3 linked regions of the Homo sapiens genome follow. The protein of the gene in region 2 purifies or fractionates together with the protein of the main gene of each other region. This does not show direct contact. Each region holds a gene or a part of one and is shown on either strand. Other genes may lie near its edges.

Evidence for each region. The genes of interacting proteins can lie anywhere in the genome.
Region 1: the proteins of DENND2C (region 2) and HID1 purify together in Homo sapiens (affinity purification with mass spectrometry; 2 studies listed by BioGRID and IntAct, with this or other methods). This does not show direct contact.
Region 3: the proteins of DENND2C (region 2) and ARHGAP42 purify together in Homo sapiens (affinity purification with mass spectrometry; 2 studies listed by BioGRID and IntAct, with this or other methods). This does not show direct contact.

Annotation. Positions count from the first base shown.
Region 1 is NC_000017.11:74,955,745-74,962,771, reverse strand, and holds part of HID1 (protein HID1), read left to right. Parts: intron 1-431; coding exon 432-538; intron 539-782; coding exon 783-899; intron 900-2,523; coding exon 2,524-2,746; intron 2,747-2,834; coding exon 2,835-2,891; intron 2,892-3,720; coding exon 3,721-3,861; intron 3,862-4,008; coding exon 4,009-4,099; intron 4,100-4,293; coding exon 4,294-4,445; intron 4,446-4,552; coding exon 4,553-4,631; intron 4,632-6,815; coding exon 6,816-6,980; intron 6,981-7,027. UniProt on the Homo sapiens protein: May play an important role in the development of cancers in a broad range of tissues.
Region 2 is NC_000001.11:114,660,035-114,667,061, reverse strand, and holds part of DENND2C (DENN domain-containing protein 2C), read left to right. Parts: intron 1-7,027. UniProt on the Homo sapiens protein: Guanine nucleotide exchange factor (GEF) which may activate RAB9A and RAB9B. Promotes the exchange of GDP to GTP, converting inactive GDP-bound Rab proteins into their active GTP-bound form.
Region 3 is NC_000011.10:100,683,418-100,690,302, reverse strand, and holds the start of ARHGAP42 (rho GTPase-activating protein 42), read right to left. Parts: upstream 3,016-6,885; 5' UTR 2,625-3,015; coding exon 2,471-2,624; exon of another isoform or gene 2,348-2,470; intron 1-2,347. UniProt on the Homo sapiens protein: May influence blood pressure by functioning as a GTPase-activating protein for RHOA in vascular smooth muscle.

The sequences.
Region 1 (7,027 bases), on a different chromosome or scaffold from region 2:
CGCTGCGTTCGGATGGCTGGGCACAGACACCCATTGTCTTTGCTTGCCCAGGGGTGTGGGGCTCAGACACAGGAGGGCTGGCCCTCTTGCTTCCTGTGGTGGCATGGACTTCACCTTGAGTCTTCTCTGCCCACCCCCAAACCCGGGGCACCCAATCCCCTGCCCCTCCCTCCCTTTCTCCCTGTCCCAAACTGGACTGAGCAAGTGAAAGAACCAGTCTGAGATGGAAGAAAAATGAGCTTTCAAGAGGCCTAAGAATATTCACTCCTGCTCTTGTGCATGAGGGCCAGGCCATTTTGAGGACCTGTCTTTAGGAGAACTGGCGGTCTCTGCCCCTGGGACTGTGTGAGGCTCGAGGTGGCCAGGTTCTGACCCAGGCTGCTGTTCACCTCTCGACCCCCTAACCCGGCTTCTTCCTGGCCTGTCCCCAGGACTCGGCAGAGGACGTCCACTCCCTGGACAGCTGTGAATACATCTGGGAGGCTGGTGTGGGCTTCGCTCACTCCCCCCAGCCTAACTACATCCACGATATGAACCGGTGAGCTTCGCCCAGGCCCGGAGCCCTCAATGCAGCTGGACCCCGGGCCGGGCCCCCGCACAGCTCAGAAAGCCCATGGGGTCTTCCCAGAAGACCGTCCTCACCTATGACCCGACCTTGACCTTACAGGGGTCAACGGGAGTAACTTCCTTCCATGGACCTGGGCTGGGGCGCTGGGCTGGGTGGGCAGAACCTCCAAGAGGGGACTGGGATCCTAAGGTGCCCTCCCCCTTCCTCCTACAAGGATGGAGCTGCTGAAACTGCTGCTGACATGCTTCTCCGAGGCCATGTACCTGCCCCCAGCTCCGGAAAGTGGCAGCACCAACCCATGGGTTCAGTTCTTTTGTTCCACGGAGAACAGGTGAAGGGCCCTTGGCCTTTCTGCGCTCTCTTCCCTCTTATTCCAGGCAATCCAGAGCTGAGTCCATTCGCCAGCTCTGGGTCTCGTTTGAGGGGAGGTGCTGCCCCCTGGTGGTGATGAACTTTAACTTACCAGCCACACCTCACACTAGCCCCGTCTCTCCTTGGAGTCCTCGACAGGACAGAATCTGGGGGCCCCTCAGTAATCCGTCCCTGGGTCCTCCATCAAGAGCCGCCTGTCCAGTAGAAATAGAATGCAAACCACGAGTGCAATTTTAAAATTAAAAAAGTTAAAAAGTAAAATTGGGCCAGGCGCGGTGGCTCACACCTGTAATCCCAGCACTTTGGGAGGCCAACGTGGGCAGATTACCTGAGGTCAGGAGTTTCAGACCAGCCTGGCCAACATGGTGAAACCGTATCTCTACTAAAAATACAAAAATTAGCCAGGCTTGGTGGCGGGTGCCTGTAATCCCAGCTACTCGGGAGGCTGAGGCACGAGAATCGCTTGAACCCGGGAGGCGGAGGTTGCAGTGAGCCGAGATTGCGCCACTGCGCTCCAGCCTGGGTGACAGAGTGAGACTCTGTTTCCAAAAAAAAAAATAAATAAATACAATAATTAATAATATATTTCATATAACCCAATATACCCCAAACTTTAGCATTTAACATGGAATCAGTATACAACATTACTGAGCTGTTTGACATCCCCCTTTTCATACTAAGTTTTCAAAATCCAGTGTGTATTTGTCTTGGTTCCGATCAGCCACATTCCAAGGGCTCGACAGCTCCTTGTGGCTTGAGGCTGCTGTGTGGGACTCTGCAGCTTAGAGACCGGGTCGGGGAGTGTGTGACAAATACCTCGAAGGGCAGGGAGGCCCAGCCCACATGGGGCACTCATGGACTGTGGGGGACACGTGAGCACGGGGTGGGGGGAGGGTGTCACACGTGCCACGTGGCAGAGTTGAGTATTTGAGCAGGTAGCTCCCACTGGGAGCTGTGTTGGCTGCATAGGGTCTGTGCCCGGCAGGTGGCGGTCGACCTCCGCCTTCCAGACTCTGGTCCCTACATGACACGCCTTATTCTTCAGGTTTCCTAGCCTTCTGTTCAACCTTCCACCCTACTCCAGAAGAGAAGGGAGCCAGGCGACCCCCTCCACCAGCCACAGTCCGAGGCTGGCCAGAGTTTTCTTTCTCACCAGCCTTATCAGGCAAACTGCCACCCTTTGTCCCTCACTTAACCTCTCTGGGTCTCAGCTTCCTCATCTGTAAGCTGAGCAGCTTGAACCCTGACATCTCTTGAGTCTGAGTGGAGTCATTCTGTGGCTTGGGAGCTGGTTGGCTGAGCGTGGGCTCTGCTCCCTGAGGGGAAGCCCACCTTCTCCACAGGCCTCCATTCCCATCTCTGAGGACCCAAGGGAGGGTATCTGCCCCTTAAGACCCTAAGGGGTATGAATGTGTCCTAATCATGGCTCTGGGCTTCCCACACCCACTCTTTCCAAGCCACTCCCTGACGTGGTGCTAAAATGCTTGTTGAATGAGGCTGACCTTCCCACGTGGCCAGAGAGGTGTGGCCAGGGGGCTGGGCCCCAGTGCAGCCTCTGCAGCCTTGTCCCTCTCCTGCTGCAGACATGCCCTGCCCCTCTTCACCTCCCTCCTCAACACCGTGTGTGCCTATGACCCTGTGGGCTACGGGATCCCCTACAACCACCTGCTCTTCTCTGACTACCGGGAACCCCTGGTGGAGGAGGCTGCCCAGGTGCTCATTGTCACTTTGGACCACGACAGTGCCAGCAGTGCCAGCCCCACTGTGGACGGCACCACCACTGGCACCGCCATGGATGATGCCGATGTAAGGATGGGAGCATGGAAGGGACAGCTGCCGGGGCCACGGGTTGTGGGGAGGACGCCTGCTCACCAGGGGCTTCTCCTCTTGGCAGCCTCCAGGCCCTGAGAACCTGTTTGTGAACTACCTGTCCCGCATCCATCGTGAGGAGGCAAGTCCAGTCCCCACAGTGGCTTTGCAGGGTGCAGGGGGATGCAAGTGAGACAGGGATATGGGGGATCCTGACCCCTCCATGAAGGAACCATGCTCTCTGTGGGCTGGGGCCACCCTAGGTGAAATAGTGGCAGGACTGTGAGGGTTTCAAGATGCAGGAAGGGCTGATGGCCTCACCTGGGTAGAGGTAACTGGGAAGGCCTCTAGGAGGAGGTGGCTGATGTCATTTCAGAGGTGGTGGGGACAAAAGGGGAATGACAGTGGACAAGGGCTTCAGGCCAAGCAGTCCCAGTTCATGTGTCTTGTGATCTTGGTGGGAAGGTGCTTGAACTCCCAGAGTTCTAACTTCTGCAGCTAAAACACAGGACCCTAGCTGCCTTCTCACCCCAGCTAGTGGCAGGCCTCAGTAAATGACAGAACAGTGGAATGCTCCTCGAGTTGTGATGGGGTGATGGGGGAGTATTTTGGGGAGGGGTAGAAGGATGGAACCTGCCAACCATGAGTCCAAGGTGGGCAGGGACAAGGTTGAGGGTGTGCATGTGTGGGAGTTCACTGAGAGCAGCAGCCTTGCTCAAGGGGCGCACAGCCCAAGGACAGAGAGTCTGCAGTCTAGTGGAGGGGCCAGGGCTGTCCACAGCTATGAGGGACTCCGCTTCCTGAGGCATCGCCCCAGGACAGCTATGGGTGATAGCATCTGGGCCCTCTGGCTCTGGAGGTGGGATCTGGCTCTGGGGGATGGAGGGGGGGATTTGTTGGGGGCCTGGGCTGGGAAACTGGAGCTGCAGGGATTGGGCTGGACAGGCCCCCTGCTCTGCCCTCGCCCCCAGGACTTCCAGTTCATCCTCAAGGGTATAGCCCGGCTGCTGTCCAACCCCCTGCTCCAGACCTACCTGCCTAACTCCACCAAGAAGATCCAGTTCCACCAGGAGCTGCTAGTTCTCTTCTGGAAGCTCTGCGACTTCAACAAGGTGGGCCAGCCTCGAGGGGCCCTGCAGGGAGATGGAGAGCAGCTGCCCCAATAACCCGGGGGCAGGGACAGTGTCAGACTGAGGGGGGTGGGGCAGAGCTGCCCCTCCCTTGAACTCAGCCCACTTGGCCCCTCCCCGCACCCCTAGAAATTCCTCTTCTTCGTGCTGAAGAGCAGCGACGTCCTAGACATCCTTGTCCCCATCCTCTTCTTCCTCAACGATGCCCGGGCCGATCAGTGTAAGACCAGGGTGGGGGTGGGATGCTGGGGGCTTTCCTGGCGGCGAGGTGGAGGGCTGGCTATCTGCCCTGACTCCCAGGAGCTCAGGCCTGGCACTCTGACCTCCTAGGAGGGAGGCCTCCAAAATGGTCACTGCCTGGGCCCCTCCTTCCCCCTCCCACCCGAGTGACCCCTCCCACGCCACCTGCCGCAGCTCGGGTGGGCCTGATGCACATTGGTGTCTTCATCTTGCTGCTTCTGAGCGGGGAGCGGAACTTCGGGGTGCGGCTGAACAAACCCTACTCAATCCGCGTGCCCATGGACATCCCAGTCTTCACAGGGACCCACGCCGACCTGCTCATTGTGGTGAGGGGGCTCGTGCGGCCGGGCCCAGGAGGTGCAGGGGTGGTGTCCTCTTGGCTGAGTCTGGAGGCAGCGGGGACCCCACGGTGCCTCTGTCCCTCCTGGCACAGGTGTTCCACAAGATCATCACCAGCGGGCACCAGCGGTTGCAGCCCCTCTTCGACTGCCTGCTCACCATCGTGGTCAACGGTAGGGGCCCGGAGCTTGCACTCCCCGCGCTCACCACCAGGTGGTGTCAGGCCACAGGCCAACCTGCCACTTGCTCCAGGTTTCAAGCCCCTCCAGCCCACAGAAAGAACGCAAGCTTGTGTACCCTTCATAGTAGCCACATTAAAAAAAAAGGGTGACAACAATTGAATAATATGTTTTATCTATCATCATCTCAACATGTAGCCAATATGAAAATTACTAATGAGATATTTAATATTCCCTTCTCACACTCAGTCTTGTCGCCCAGGCTGGAGTGCAGTGGCACCATCTCAGCTCACTGCAACCTCCGCCCCTTGGGTTCAAGCAATTCTCATGCCTCAGCCTCCTGAGTAGGTGGGATTACAGGCGTGTGCCACCACACCTGGCTAATTTTTGTATCTTTAGTAGAGACGGGGTTTTGCCATGTTGTCCAGGCTGGTCTCGAACTCCTGACCTCAGATGATATGCCCACCTCAGCCTCCCAAAGTGCTGGGATTACAGGCATGAGCCACTGCATCTGGCCTTTTTTTAAAAAAAAAAAATTTAACAATTTTTTTTGACATCTGAAGGAGGTTAGCCCAGTTTATGGGAGCCACTGGTAGTCCGATAACATTTTTACTTTATTTATTTATTTATTTTATTTTATTTTATTTTTTATTTTTAAGACAGAGTCTCACTCTCTGTTGCTCAGGCTAGAGTGCAGTGGCACAATCTCCATTCACTGCAACCTCCCAGGTTAAGTGATCCTCATGCCTCAGCCTCCCAAGTAGCTGGGATCACAGCATGTGCCACCACAACTGGCTAATTTTTTTTTTTTTTTTGTATTTTTAGTAGAGACAGAGTTTTGCCATGTTGGCCAGGCTGGTCTTGAAGTCCTGGCCTCAAGCAATCTGCCTGCCTTGGCCTCCCAAAGCGCTGGGGTTACAGGTGTGAACCACCACACCCGGCCATATTTCATTTTATTTCTAATTATAGTGACGGGATCTCACTATGTTTCCCAGGCTTGTCCTGAACTCCTGAGCTCAAATGATCCTCCTGCCTCAGCCTCCCAAAGTGCTGGGATTATACAGGCGTGAGCCACTGTGTCTGGCCTCTTGTGTGTTTCATATGTGCAGCACACGTGTTAGGACTAGCTGTGTTTCAAGCACGAAATGGCCACACGTGGCTGATGTCCACTGTGTTGGGCAGTGCAGGTTTGGACATTTGGAGTCACAGTGTATGGGGATGTGGAGGCCCCACCCTTTCTGCCTTTGTCCTCCCTGTCCAGCCCCTACCCCCACCCAGCAAGGACTGCACACAGCTGCTGGGGAGAGGAAGCAGAAGGAGCCAGGCTCCCTGGGGTTCAGGACCTAGCAAGGCAGGTGGCCATGGGCTGGGGCAAAATGCCTTCAGTGTGAACATCTTTTGGAGAGGATGGTTGTGGCTAGGGGTGGCTGGTCTGTCTGTGTTCTGGTTTAGACTGCAGGGTGGGTAGTGTGCGGTGGTAGAGGCCTCTAGCTGGGCTGTGAGCTTTGGGGTCAGGACTGTCCCTTCCCCTCCTGGTTCACTCTCTGGCTCCATCTCACAAATCTTAACTGAGCTGGTTCCGAGAACACACTTGTGACCAAGACAGCCCTGGTCCCTGCCCTGTGGAGCCCTCAGCCTAGTGAGGGAAAATGACACAAGACAAGGAAGTGTTCAGATCAGCATGGAACTTCAGTCTGGGTGTGCCCCCAGGGTTGGGTCCCAAAATACACCTCTAGTGACATGGCAGCTTGACGTTCTAGAAAGATTTAAAGTCTTGAGTTTGTATCCCTGCCCGATCATTTCATTACTGGGGAACTTGGGCCAAGTTTACAACCTTCTCTGAGCCTCAGTTTCCATGTCTGTAAAATGGGGATGATCTTGTCTGTGTCCTGCCTCCCTCGTGGTATGGGGGGGACTGGCATGGGTGGGATGTGTATGGCTTTATAAGCAGGACAGCTGTCTTCATGGTCGAGGGGTGAGGGTGGGGCCTAACTGCCTCCCAGGACTCTGCACACAGTATGGCCAGTGTGGACTCAGCCTCTTAGGGCCTTGGTCGTCCTGGCTCTGCAGGGGGCAGGGAGGGATTGAGAGCAGGAGCCTGTTGTTCCACCCCGGCCCAGGATGTGCAGGGATGGCTTGGCTGAGGGGCCCAGGAGTGAGCTGACCCCTCCCTTACAGTGTCCCCCTACCTCAAGAGCCTGTCCATGGTGACTGCCAACAAGTTGCTGCACCTGCTGGAGGCCTTCTCCACCACCTGGTTCCTCTTCTCTGCCGCCCAGAACCACCACCTGGTCTTCTTCCTCCTGGAGGTCTTCAACAACATCATCCAGTACCAGTTTGATGGTGAGGCACCAGCCTGAGGCCCTGGTGGTCAGGGTGGCCAGCGGGCC
Region 2 (7,027 bases):
TGTTGTAGTCCATTGTACTGAAGGCCAGGGTGTGTAGAAATGGGTGGTTTGGCTAAAGGAGATGGTGCCTGGAAATAAGATGAAAAAATAAAATTGCAAAGCTTCCTTGCTGATTGCATTAGGATCACTAAAATTGCTAGGTAATGTGGTATTTCACTTCCCTTCATTTGGAACAATGAAATGAGTAATTAGTTCAGTTTGGCAGAATGTTTCACTAAAAAATATGGTGTTAAAGGTACTTTTAATACTTTGAAGTACAAGATATAAGATAACATTACAGACTTAGGTAAGTAAAAAGTTAAGATTTAGGGCCAGGCGTGGTGGCTCATGCCTGTAATCCCAGCACTCTGGGAGGCCAAGGCAGGTGGATCAAGAGGTCAGGAGATCGGGAGCATCCTGGTCAACATGGCGAAACCCCATCTCTACTAAAATACAAAAATTATACGGGTGTGGTGGCGTGTGCCTGTAATCCCAGCTACTTGGGAGGCTGAGGCAGGAGAATCATTTGAACCAGGGAGTCAGAGGTTGCGGTGAGCTGAGGTCGTGCACCTGCACTCCAGCCTGGCAACAGAGTGAGACTGTCTTTAAAAAAAAAAGTTATGATTCAGAAAAAGAGGGAAAAAAGTCTTCTGATGCTAGGTCTTGAAGAGCCAGAGTATCGTGCTAAGGACTTTGGACTTGATTCTAAAGACAATGGAGAGCCAGTGAAGGATTTTAGATATAGGTGTTTAGGAAAGATAAGCTGAAAATGGTTTGGAGGCTGAATTGGATGAAGAGAGACAAAAGGTAGGGAGATAAGTTAGGAGGCTGTTGCTATTGAAATAGTCCAGATAAGGGAGGATAGGGGCCTGGAGTAGGAAAATAGTAATAGGGATGGAGAGGAGAGGATAGATAGTGAAGGTGTAGAATTTGACAGGGCTTTAAAATCAATTGGCTCAAAAGAGGAACAGAAAAGTAAATGACTTAGTTTTTTAGCTTGGAAAACTGTTTGGATGAAGGGTCTTGTTTTATTTTTTAATATTGGAGGAAGATAATTGTTTCCATTTTGAATTCATGTTGAGTTTGAATTGTCTTTGGAGCATTCAAGTGGAGATGTCGAGAGAGGATCTAGAGTCCAGAAGCCAGGCTAAAATTGGTGATTCAGATTTCAGAGGTAGCCAGTAAGTGTTAATTGAAGCCGTAAGAGCAGATGAAATTGCTCAAGGGAGTATGTAGAATTAGAAGAGAAGAGGGCCAAGAATAAATGATTTGCTTTATGTAAGTAGAAGGAATTATTTATCTATGCTAATTTTGTCCAACAAATTATTATTATAAAGCAATGAAATGGATTTTAATTGAAAGTTGAACAACTTTTACATCCAAATGAGTCCTGTTCTTTTAAAATTTCATTTGGAAGTCACTCATTTATTCCAGAAGTACAGATGCTCCTCAATTTTCGATAGGGTTATGTCTGAATAAACCCATCATAAGTTGAAAATATTGTTAGTCAACATGTGATAAACTTACGAAGGGTTTATCCGAATGTAACCCCATCATAAGTTAAGGAGGGTACTGAGCACATACTGCTTTGGCACCATCATAAAGTTGAAAAATTGTTAATTTAAACCATCATTAAGTCAGGGACTGTCTGTATTGCCCAAAGTATTATTGGAGCTTCTCTTTGTAAAAAGCTTTATAGCAAATTCACAGCTACACAAGAACGTAGATCTTCTGGCTTTATTATGGAATTGTTTTTCTGTCTCTTTATTTGCATGGCACATATAACTTATTTACTTTTTTTTTTTTTTTTTCAAGAGACAGGGTCTTGCTCTGCTACCCTGGCTGGAATACAGTGATGCAATCATAGCTCACTGCAGCCTGGACCTCTTGGGCTCAAGGGATCCTCCTGCTTCAGTCTCCTGAGAAACTAGGACTACAGGCATGCACCACCACCCCCTGCTAATTTTTATTTTTTATTTTATTTTTCTTGAGACAGAGTCTCTCTCTGTTGCCCAGGCTGGAGTGCAGTAGTGTGATCTCAGCTCACTGCAACCTCTGCCTCCCAGGTCCAAGTGATTCTCCTGTCTCAGCCTCCCAAGTAGCTGGGACTACAGGCGCACACCACCATGCCTGGGTAATTTTTTGTATTTTTGGTAGAGATGGGGTTTCACCATATTGATCAGGCTGGTCTCGAACTCCTGACCTCAGGTGATCCACCCGCCTTGGCCTCCCAAAGTGCTGGGATTACAGGTGTGAGCCACCACACCCGGCCTGACCCCCTGCTAATTAAAAAACAATTTTTTTTGCCCAGGCACAGTGGCTCACACCTGTAATCCTAGCACTTTGGGAGGCCAAGGCGGTGGGTCACTTCAGTCAGGAGTTTGAGACCCACCTGGCCAACATGGTGAAACCCCATCTCTACTAAAAACACAGAAATTAGCTGGATGTGGTGGCGCGTGTCTGTAGTCCCAGCTCCTTGGGAGACTGAGGCAGGAGAATCACTTGAACCCAGGAGGTGGAGGTTGCAGTGAGCTGAGATTGTGCCATTGTACTCCAGCCTGAGAGACAAGAGCGAAACTCTCCATCTCAAAAAAATTTAAATAAATAAATAAATACATAAATTTTTTTCTTTTGTAGAGATGGGGTTTCACTGTGTTGCCCATTCTGATCTTAAACTTCTGGGCCTAAGCACTCCTTCTGCCTCAGCCTATCCAAGTGTTAGGATTACAGGCATGAGCCACTGTGCCCAGCTTCCGTTCACAATCAATCAAAGCTTCGAAAGCATATTCCTATCCCATCACTGGATCTTTAGTTCTTGGAAGTCATAGACAAAGCTTAAAAAACAACAAAAGACTGTGTCCCCATGCCTATAATCAGCACGTTGGGAGGCCAAGATGGGAAGATCACTTGAGCCCAGGAGTTCTAGACCAGCCTGAGCAACATAAGGAGACCTCGTCTCTACAAAAAATTTTAAAAAATTAGCTGGCATGGTGGCACATGCCTGTGGTCCCAGCCGCTTGGGAGGCTGAGGTGGGAGAATTGCTAGAACCCGGGAGGCAGAGATTGCAGTTAGCCAAGATCGTGCCATTGCACTCCAGCTTGGGTGACAAGACAAAAAAAAAAAAAAAAAAGAATAGCAGTATGGTCTTCTAAGGCAGGGGTTAGCAAATATTCTGTAAAGGGCTAGATAGCAAATATTAATATTTTGTACTTTGTGTGCCATACGGTCTCTGTCATAACTACCCAATTCTGCCAAAAAGCAGCCATAGACAACGCTTCAATGAATAAGCATGGACTGTGTTCCAATAAAACTTTATTTATGGACACTGAAATTTGAATTTCATATAATTTTCACATCACAAAATGTTATACTTATTTGATCTTTCCACCCAACCATTAAAAAATGTAAAAACCACTCTTAACTCAGAGGCCTTGCAAAAACAGGCAGTGGGCCAAATTTGGCCCACAGGTAGGCCATAGTCTGCCAACCTTAACGGATCTTTGAAATATTTGAATTCGTAAGCTTGGTTTAGAAAAAAAAAATCATGGTTCTTCGAAATCATACCTCCTGTTTTTAAATTCTAGTACATTTCTTAAAATAATTAAAACATTTTCATTCATCCCCCATTTCTCATTTAAATGGAAAATACTCCCTTTACTGGTTTGGAACTTTAGATACAGAGAAATAGATTAACTTGTACAGAGTCAGAATAAAAAAGTATGTTTGAAAAATGTTTTTTGATATTCAGTGTTCTTTACTGAATCAATAAAACATTGATCTTTTCGCTTCAGTGAAAGTGGGGACATTGAAACCTGGGTGAAATAAAAGATAAATTTGAAGGGGTATTCTGCACTGGTTCCCAGAGGGTTGGACAGGATGGAATTTTATTCTCTTTTTCTTCTGCCCTGAATGAATAAGTTTTATCCTAAAGAAAAGAAAACATGATAATGTCTTCACTTTATAAGCAGTATAGCAAATTATAAGACTGAAGGATTAAGTAGATGATGATAAGAGAAAAAAATTTAAAGGACTGACTTTTTCACATCTATCTATTCCAGGTATTTACCCATTTTTTTCCTTCCTCCCTTTCCTTTTCCCTCTTCCTTCTTCCTTTTCCTTTTCTTTTCTTGGTCTTTCTCTGTCACCCAGGCTGGAGTGCAGTGGCACAATCATAGTTCACTGCAGCCTCCAACCCCTGGGCTCACACGATCCCTCCACCTCAGCCTCCCAGTTAGCTCGCATTACAGGTGCACGCCACCAAGACTGGCTAATTTTTTAAAAAACTTTTTGTAGAGATGGGGTCTCAATACGTTGTCTAGGTTGGGCTTGAACTCCCGACCTCGGGATCCTCCCATCTCAGCCTCCCAAAGCGCTGGGGGTACGAAGCCATTATGCCTGGCCCCTATTTTTGAGGAATAAATTCAAGATTTTTTTTTTTTTCTTATGAATCTTAGACTTCTGGTTAGTGGCGTGAAAACAGAGTTTTTAGCATTTAGTTCTGGCAATATTAATCCATTTATATTATTTGAAGGTTGTGCTGTACTTTTTAAAGTTAAATGTCTAACTTTCGTAGTTTTCATAGCAGTGATAAATATTTACAACAAAGGATATGGAGAGAAATTATTATTTTTTTTCCTTCAAGTTTGAATTCATAGAAATGACATATTTGCGGATTTTTTGTTTGGATGTTAAAATTCAGGGACAGATTGGTGGGGGAGAGAGAGAGTTATTTTTGCTGCTACTTAAAAGGGATTTGCATTTTTCTCTGTCTTTTTTTCTGTTGGAGTAAAAAACAAAATCTCCCAGCTGTGTGGGATGTGTTTGAATTGGTTACTTAGCAGTGTAAAGCATAATTTTGTATTTAAATATTTATCTGTACTCTTTGATATTCTGATTAAATAAGGATCTATTAAGGCTATAATAATAGAGCCTTCTGTGAGGAAATGACATAGGCTGCTCCACAACAGTATTTACTGAAAATTTCCTTTTCCCTGGGCCCTATTTAAACTATAAGGGGTAATTGGAACAAAAGGGGAAAATTATGTGAATTAGAGTGATGGTCAATTTAATCATGAGTGTAATGTGATAGCTATCAATGTATAGTTTTATTGACATAAATCAGGGTTGAGCAAAGAGTGGGAGAATTTTGTCTGCTGTTGTTAAAAATGGTGAGTCGTTGAACCAAATTTTATTTTTGAACTTTGCATTCGTCAAGTGTGATATTTTCAAGAGTCTGGTGATAATTGTATTTTTAAATCAAATTGGATCAATTTGCCTTTCAAATTTGTTGTTTCATTATTAGAAGAAAAAAACGAAGTAAAAAATACAGAGGTATGTGCAATGACTGGATCTGGAAGAACAAAAATATTGAGGGAAATGGTCACCTGAGAAAAACTATTAAGACTTTCAATGAAGATTATTTAAAATATGGCTTTGTCAAATGGGCAAAATCTGAGTAAAATGACAGACCCATGTCTTCATATAATGTTGCAAATGAAAATTAAAAACCTTTAAAGTTAAAAAGATTCTTGGAAACATAGCATACTGGACTTTTAAATAAGCCCTTTCAAATATTTTCAAAGAAAGAAAAAGAGATAAAGTTATCTCAGTTTCCTATTTATTCAAGAATCATTCCTGAGAAAGATTATTGTCTCATTTAGTTGTGTATCAGTGGCATAAGGGAAAAATGGCTACATATCTCTTGAAAAAAGTATTCATCTATAATTCATGGAAGTTGTGCTCATGATTTTTGATGCTAAATCAGCTGGAAATTAAAAATTATACTTCTTAGTGATGACATAGCTCTATTCTTTACCATTATTGGACATTTCAGCAGTGCTTGCAAGATGGGTAGAGTCTGGTGCAGATTTTGCAATCCAAATCGATGGGGTCGCTGATATTGTAAGTTGTACTGTGCTTTTAGGTAGTGAAGATAATAAGGAGGATTTTCTTTTCTTTTTTTTTTTTTTTTTTTTGAGACGGAGTCTCGCTCTGTCGCCCAGGTGCACAGTGGCACAATACCGGCTCACTGCAACCTCCGCCTCCCGGGTTCAAGCGATTCTCCTGCCTCAACCTCCTGAGTAACTGGGATTACAGGTGCGAGCCACCATGCCCGGCTGATTTTTGTATTTTTAGTAGAGACAGGGTTTCACCATGTTGGTCAGGCTGGTCTCAAACTCCTGACCTTGTGATCTGCCTGCCTCGGCCTCCCAAAGTGCAGGGATTACAGGCATGAGACACCACGCCCGGCAGGATTTTCTTGTTGTTTAAATTTAACCACAGCTGTATGGGTATATTTACAGAATTTTAAAAAATAAATTGTTGATCCTCAGAAATTAAACTGGGAAAAAACTATTAAATAATTATGAGCAATTGAATAGCAAATGTGGTTAGAAAATATAAAGCAGTTATTTTAAGCATTGTTTGAAGCTGCTACTAACAGTGTTCCCTCCCCCTGTCCAGCCTCCCGTGCAAGTCTCACAGTGTGTTTTAATGAGTATCTCCTCAAAGCACCTTCCAACACTCAAGGGGAGGGAGGGAATTAGAGACAGGCAAACTTACAGCCAGTAGTCAAAACAATACAGCTGAAAGTATAGACATCCTCCTGCTTTCTTCTGAATGTCCAGGGCAGCAGGAAAGCTTGGAGCTTTCCCTCCAGCAAAAACAATAGGCTGGGTGTGGGTGAACATACTGTCCAGCAAGTCACTGCTGGGCTCCGTTTCTGTCCTGTTTGTTCTAAGGGCTAAGAATGGTGTTTGAAACTGCTGTTTTATATATTGCAAAGCTTTGGTATGCACAGAAAACTTTCTGAATCTCATGAATATATTGAAAGTTGTTAATTATATTAAAGGAAGCTTGCTGAGTAACCAACATTTTAAAATATTCAGAGTTAACTGTACCTATTTACTATATCACATTGGAGTTTGATAGTTGAGATAAGGAGCTAAGCAGATTTTATGAATCCAGAATTTTTCTAGCTGAGAGGCAATCTCAGTCAGGCATGGTGGCTCATGCCTTTAATCCCAGCACTTGGAAGGCTGAGGCTGG
Region 3 (6,885 bases), on a different chromosome or scaffold from region 2:
AAGGTTACATTAAGAATGCATTAATTATTAATAAAAATAACAGTGCCGTGCTAAAAAAACTGAAACGGGTAATGGATACATCTATTGAAATAGTCTATATAAAGTTAGGGAAGGTGAAGTCCTCCCCAGGCAGGAAAGAAAAACAGAAAAGACAGACTGGGGGAAGAAGGACTCCCTTAGTGGAGTGGGCAGACTTATGGTACAGGGACGCTCCCACAGTGGAATGGTCAGCCCCATGGTACAAGCACTGCCAGCTATGCCAGGGGACATGTCTGGGCTAGTGGTCAGGGCAGGGGCAGCCAGTGATAGAACCAAGCAGGCTTCAAATCCTTTCTGACACACTCCTCCTATCCAAGCAGCTGCAGCCCAGCCTCAGAGCATCCTTCCTAAGGGACAAAAGGTGGCTTGGTACGAAAAAAATCAGTGCTACAGTGTGACTTCAAGGGTTCCTTTGCTCCAAAATCCCTCCCATTTGGCAGCTGCTGTTAGGAATCCTTTTACCAAGGAATAAAATCTTTTCCTTTTCACAATGAAAGAAGTAATAATCAAACGTTAGTTAAAGTAATACACTCTCACCACAAACTTAAGAATCCTAGAAAGATAGCAGGTTGTATAATTAAGTGCATAAGCCAAATTAATGATGCAGGGCCTATATCTTCAAAGAGCCTACGCTCCCAAGATTTCTTCACTTATGAATGGAAGAACAAAACTATAATGATGGGAATCACCTGACTTTTACAAAGCTAGATTCAACCATCATAATAAAGTATGTAATGTCACTCGTAATATAATGTACATGTCAGAGCATTTATCACAGGTATGTAAGTATTTTGACCTTCTGAAACACTAAAGTTTATCTCAAGCAGAGCGGGGAGAAAAATGTAGAATATCTGGCACCTCCAACAAGAACTGGCTTGGCATTTGACACTCTGAGATGCAGCTCTTTTTGAAGAGGCATCATGCTCTCTTAGATGCAAAGAGGTTAGTCCCGCGAGACTTTAACCAGGATTTGCAAGCCAGAGGAAGGACAGTTCACATTAGTGTTTATGTAGGGTGGCAAGAATTGCAGACAAACTATATTTTTCACAAATCACAGTAAATACCATTATTAGTAGTAGCCTCAAATTCAGAAATTAAGTGAATATGGGCATAAAATATATTATCTTTACCTTGGTTAAGTAACACAAGTGGTTAAGTAAATGTTTTAACATTTGGGATGATTAAAAGATATTTTGGAGCACATTAATTTCAAGACATCTTGCTAAGCTCTCTCCTTACTGTTAATACATGTTTCAAAATATAGATCCGATACTAGTATTGTCTCAGTTTTAGGCGCACACATCCCTATCATGTTGTTATACAAAGATGATGCCCCCATATATGTCCTGGGGGTAACTAGATCACCCAAAGGTCTCTCTACCTTTTGAAAGTACCTCACTCACCCAGCTTTAAGTGACCAGAGATTCCACGGCTTCATTTCAGTAGCTAAAACATCCAGAAGCCTCTATTAAGATGCAAATACTTTTCACAGGCTCCTTTGAAGATGGAAAATAAATAAATACATAAATAAATAAAAATAAATTTTTTAAAAGATGCAAATACCTCCTGGGAAAGGTAACAAGCCATATCATGTAATTGTGCTCAATTCTCTGTAAGAGAAACTCTTCAGTTTCAGATACTCTTAGGTCTTAGGAATTGAAAGCTAAGATCCAGAGGATAAAAGGAGGAAGGAAAATTTGATCAAGAGGTGTATGGGAAAGGAGGTGGAAGAAGCCCTATATTATAGACTATAACAGTCTTTATATTCTACAGATCATCAAAAGTTCTGATTGGCCTTTAACCCCTTAACTTTCATCCCAATGACACACCCAACACCCACACAATGCAAACCAAAACTAAGACGCACAGAAAACTTGCAGAGTTAAAATGCACTGGTGCCTTGCTGTCTTCCATTATCTTACAAAATGGCAAAACTGCAAATGTATGCTTTTTAAAAAGCCAACTCAATGACTGTGTCCAATGAAGAGCCACTGACGTATGAGAGACATTAATAATTTTCTTTCAATATCACTAAACTAGCCTAATTTTATCTTTAAGACAAACTCTTGATTCCCCCCTTAAGGGCTTTTTTAGTTCAAACTATTAATAGACACAATAAATTAAAAAAAAAAAATTAAAGTCCCCAACATCTTCCTAGGAGCATTACACAACGAGATGACTTTGAACGACTTTCCTCAGGATATATTCCAGTGCCCTGTAGAGAACTTTCCCCATCCCTGTAGACATGTGAGTAAGTAAAGAACACCTCAAGAACAAACTTTGTTGGCCACCAGCAGGGGAGCTCTTCAGCTTTTGTCCCCAAATCCATTCAAACAAAAGAAGCTCCGACTCCTCCAACCCACCCTTCGGACCCGCACCCCGCGGGGACTCTCCAGATGCGGGTGTCCACTCCCCCGCCAGCCCTACTTACTCCTCAACGCCCCAATGAGCAGAGAGCCGTCCTTAATGAGCTCCTTGATGAACTTGTTGGTTCGCTCCAGCTCAATCTCGTGACACTGCAAGCGCTCCCTGAAATCTGGGCTGTCCAAGTAGGAATCGCTGAACTCCAGAGTGGGCAGCCCCATGGCACAGGCGCTGCCAGCGGCGGCCGCGGACACGTCCGGGCCGGAGGTCAGGGCGGGGGCAGCCGGCGGCCGCGGCGGGCGCTGGGGTCGCGCGATCGCGGGGAAGGCGCCGGGACGCGAGGGGACTGATTGCGCGGAGGAAACGGGCCCCGAGCGCCGCGCCGCCTGCGCCGGGCTCAGTCTTCCTCCCCCGAGGCTAGGCGAGCGCAGGCGCGGGCGGCGGGCCGAGGCGCGAGTCCCCTCAGGTTGTTGTCATCTGGACGCATCGTCGTTCGGAACGCGGGGGCGGCGAGGCTCCGGGCCGCGGCCGGAGCAGGAAAGTTTCTCTCACGGCGCGCAGACACTTCCGGCAGTTCCACTCCCCAACTCTCTTGACAGTCGTCGGCGTTGTGAGCCAGAAGCAGCGCACAGCCGCAACTCCGGCCGGGCTGGGGAAACCCTCCCCCTCGGCGGACGCAGGCTCAGAGCGCTTGCAAATCGCACCCGGGCTCCCAGACCCTCCTCCCCGCCGCCGCGCTCCCACCCAGCGCCACCCCGCCCCTTCGCCCCTTTGCCCTCCTGCCCCACCCGTCCGCCCGCACTGGGCTCCAGGGCTCCCCGCGCTGCAGCCCCGCGCTTGCGCTCCGGCCTTGGCTGGGGTGTTAGCCCTGTCCCCTCTTGGGCCCCTGGTTTCGGCTAGCCCTTGGTGACACTTCGGGGTCCCTCGCTCCACAAAAGGATCTGACTCCCAATATACCTCCCCTAACAGTGTCCCCTCCACCCACTCCCTACAATTCTCTGGGAGAAAAACCAACGTTAAGTTTCCCTAAAGTCTGAGTATTTTGAAGCGTAGATGGAAGATACTACTGTCTAGCGTTCGTTTAGATTTTACTTCACACTTCCCCACCGAATGCATTTGAATTCCACGTTGAAAAATTGTCCCGTCGCTCTCCCACCCCTCAGCTTCAATGATCCAGCCTGGAGGTGTTTCTTCCCCCTGCCCCCACTCCATAGCTGGGAAGGTGGGACGATTTTTCAAGTCATCCTCACTCTGCTTACGTGCTCCTACTTCTAGTAGAATACCTATTTGCATCACAATAGTAGTATCTCCTATTGGCACCTGGATGGAATTGTCCTAGGAGCGGGAAAATTTTCAAATTGTTGAAGTGGACTGGAGTTTGAAATAAATAGTTAACTCCTACCCACAGGCTTTATCCTTCCTCCGGTGGAGGTTCACCTAATAAATTTCTGTTCTCTTAAAACCTTGACAGCAAAAGAAACGACTGCTTTACATCTCGTCCTGACATCATCTATAGGATTTCTGAGAACTCGGATATTGTTCTTAAGGATCTGCTTTTAATTTCTGCATTTTCATTGCTTTGTCCATATGAACCATCTGTTTAAAAACTATTCTACAGATCATGGGAAAAATTCCACTAAAGTGCTTTACATTTTTCCCAATTAAGTTTCAGAGCCAGTCAAGATTCTTGGTTTCAATTTTTTAAATGTACAGGAACATTAAAAATAACATGTAAACCTAAAACAGATAAGATAATGTAAACAGTATGGGCCAGGCGCAGTGACTTAACGCCTGTAATACCAGCATTCTGGGAGGCTGATGCAGGAGAATCACTTGAGGTCAGGAGTTGGAGACCATACTGGCCAACACGGTGAAACCCAGTTTCTACTAAAAAATACAAAAATTAGCTGGGCCTGGTGGCGCACGCCTGTAGTCCCAGCTACTTGGGAGGCTGAGGCAGGAGAGTCACTGGAATCCGGGAGGCGGCGATTGCCATGAGCCGAGATTACGAGATTACTCCACCGCACTCCAGCCTGAGTGACAGAACGACTCCATCTCAAAACACCTTCCATCCATATTCACATCTTTGGCCCCATATTGGCAAAATGACCAGTCACTATTAGAGCCATTTTAACTCCAAGTGTTAAATTTGTTTTTGTTAACTAAATACTCTTCAATTTTTTTTTTCTTTTGCAGGTTTGGGGAAGGGAGAGGCAGTAATTCTGTTTGTCAGTTAATGAAATGACATGACATAAACACCAGTGGACTGTGTCTCACCAGAGGTGATTTTGTATTTACTCATTACTCTGCCTGAAAGACAAAAAATCACCCAGGCCAAACAGTTTCCTTTCAACTTTTGCCATGTTGCTGTTCCTATCAACTGAATCCAGTGCCAAACTGCTGAGATACGAAACGATAAAATATAACATTCTCTTCTTGTTTTTCATTAAATCATCGTACTGTGATTAAGTCTTTAAAAATGCATCATTGGTGTTTCATAAGTTGCATTTAATATGTTGGATGTCAATGTTTAGTTTTCTTTAAAAGTGTTACATGCCAGGGCAGATGTATTGTACATTCTATGATACAGGTTATCATTTGCCCATTCATGTATGTAATGATATGTTTTATGTCTACTGTCTACATTACTAAGGTCTGGGTGGGGAAGTGATTTCTATAAAAAGACAGAAGCATTATCCGTGACCTCAAGCAGTTCTCAGAAAAAGGAAATGTGGAAAATAAGTACCCATAAAGCATAAGGCAGAATATGCTGTGTTCCACAGCCTCACACAGATGCTGTACTAATAATACATTGATGCTATTGTTTATCAATATGTTTCCACTCAGGCCCATCATTGCATTTACATGGAATTAGGATTTTTTCTCCTACCCTTCACTCATGATTCCCTAAAGTTTATCATGTTATAATGGGCTTATTTCTTGTAGGTGTTTTCATAGTTACTCATGCTTATTCCTATGATTCATACTTTAATTATACCTGCTAGTCAGGCTTTCTCTTATGCCACATTAACACAGCTACTTGAGAAAAACCAGAAATGCTTTTGCTTTGAGGTGGGTTTACTGTCGGTTTTGAACTGTTGTTTCCATGCATGATTCTCTCCATCATAATTAACTGAACCAGATTCTTTCCTAGAGAATAGACTTTCTATATAAAAGATCAGCAATACCTGCAAGCCTGTTTTCATAAACAAATGTAATGGATTGAAATATAGCCTGTCCAGAAATTTCCACTTCATAACACATGACACCGTAAGCTGCGTGGTAAGCTTCGCAAATATTATTGGCTGACAGGCTCTTTGGCACAGAGAAATGTCTCTTTGTTTTCCTGATTCTGGAATGGGATATGTGGGCTTTGTTTACTTGCTTTTGAGAGCAAATAGATAGTAGAGGATAGTAAACTAATATGGCATTTGTAAATCTGCCTAAAACTGTTTCTTGACGTAGATCATGTCTGACACTTAAGCCTGGCACTTCGTATGTACTCAGTAAGTGTTATTGTCAAGCTATTATTACTTTTCAATTAATTATGTAGATTTAGACCACCCAGACTCAGCTGATCTGAGGTTAAGTTCAAGCCTGGTAAGAGATGACTAAACAGAAACCAAGTGTTTCTTCTTGGTTTCCCCTCCTCCCAGCTCCTGGTAACCATTGTACTTTCTGTCTCTATGAATTTGACAATGTAGGTATCTCATATAAATGAAATTATACAATATTTGCACAATGTGTCTGTCTTATTTCACTTAGATGATTCAGTCATCAAAAAGAGAAGCAAAGAAGAAATAAGAATTAGATATACATTTAAAACCCATATGAGGAGCCAGGCCTGGTAGCTCAGCCTGTAATCTCAGCACTTTAGGAGGCCCAGGTGGGCATTTCACCTGGAGTTCGAGACCAGCCTGGCCAACATGATTAAACCCCATCTCTACTAAAAATAGAAAAATTAGCTGGGTGTGGTGGTGTGCACCTGTAATCCCAGCAGGTACTAGGGAGGCTGAGGCACGAGAATTGTTTGAAGCCAGGAGGCAGAGGTTGCAGTGAGCCAAGGTTGTGCCACTGCACTCCAGCCTGGGCAATGGAACGAGACTCTGTCATCTTAAACAGATAAAAATTTTAAAAAACCCAAAACAAATAAACAAAAAGAAACAAGCATTTGAACCTACTTAATTTTTGACTTAATTTTCTAAAATACTCTTCTGACAGCCAAAAAATGAAGTTCAGATTAAGCCCTTAGAGGGCGAGATCTTTTTATTCTGCCTTATTAGAAGTATTATTATTGTCACACACAATGCTCTTAACATCACTATTTCTCAAAAAATTAGTTGGTGTATGACACTGCATTTCTGATGGGCAAATGTACACATCATTAGTGACAGGAGCCTATGTGACTTAGTAACATTGTCTTTTCCAGTTTAAAAAAAATGCTCTCACAAATTGTAGAGCCCCTCTCAAATGCATACAGCT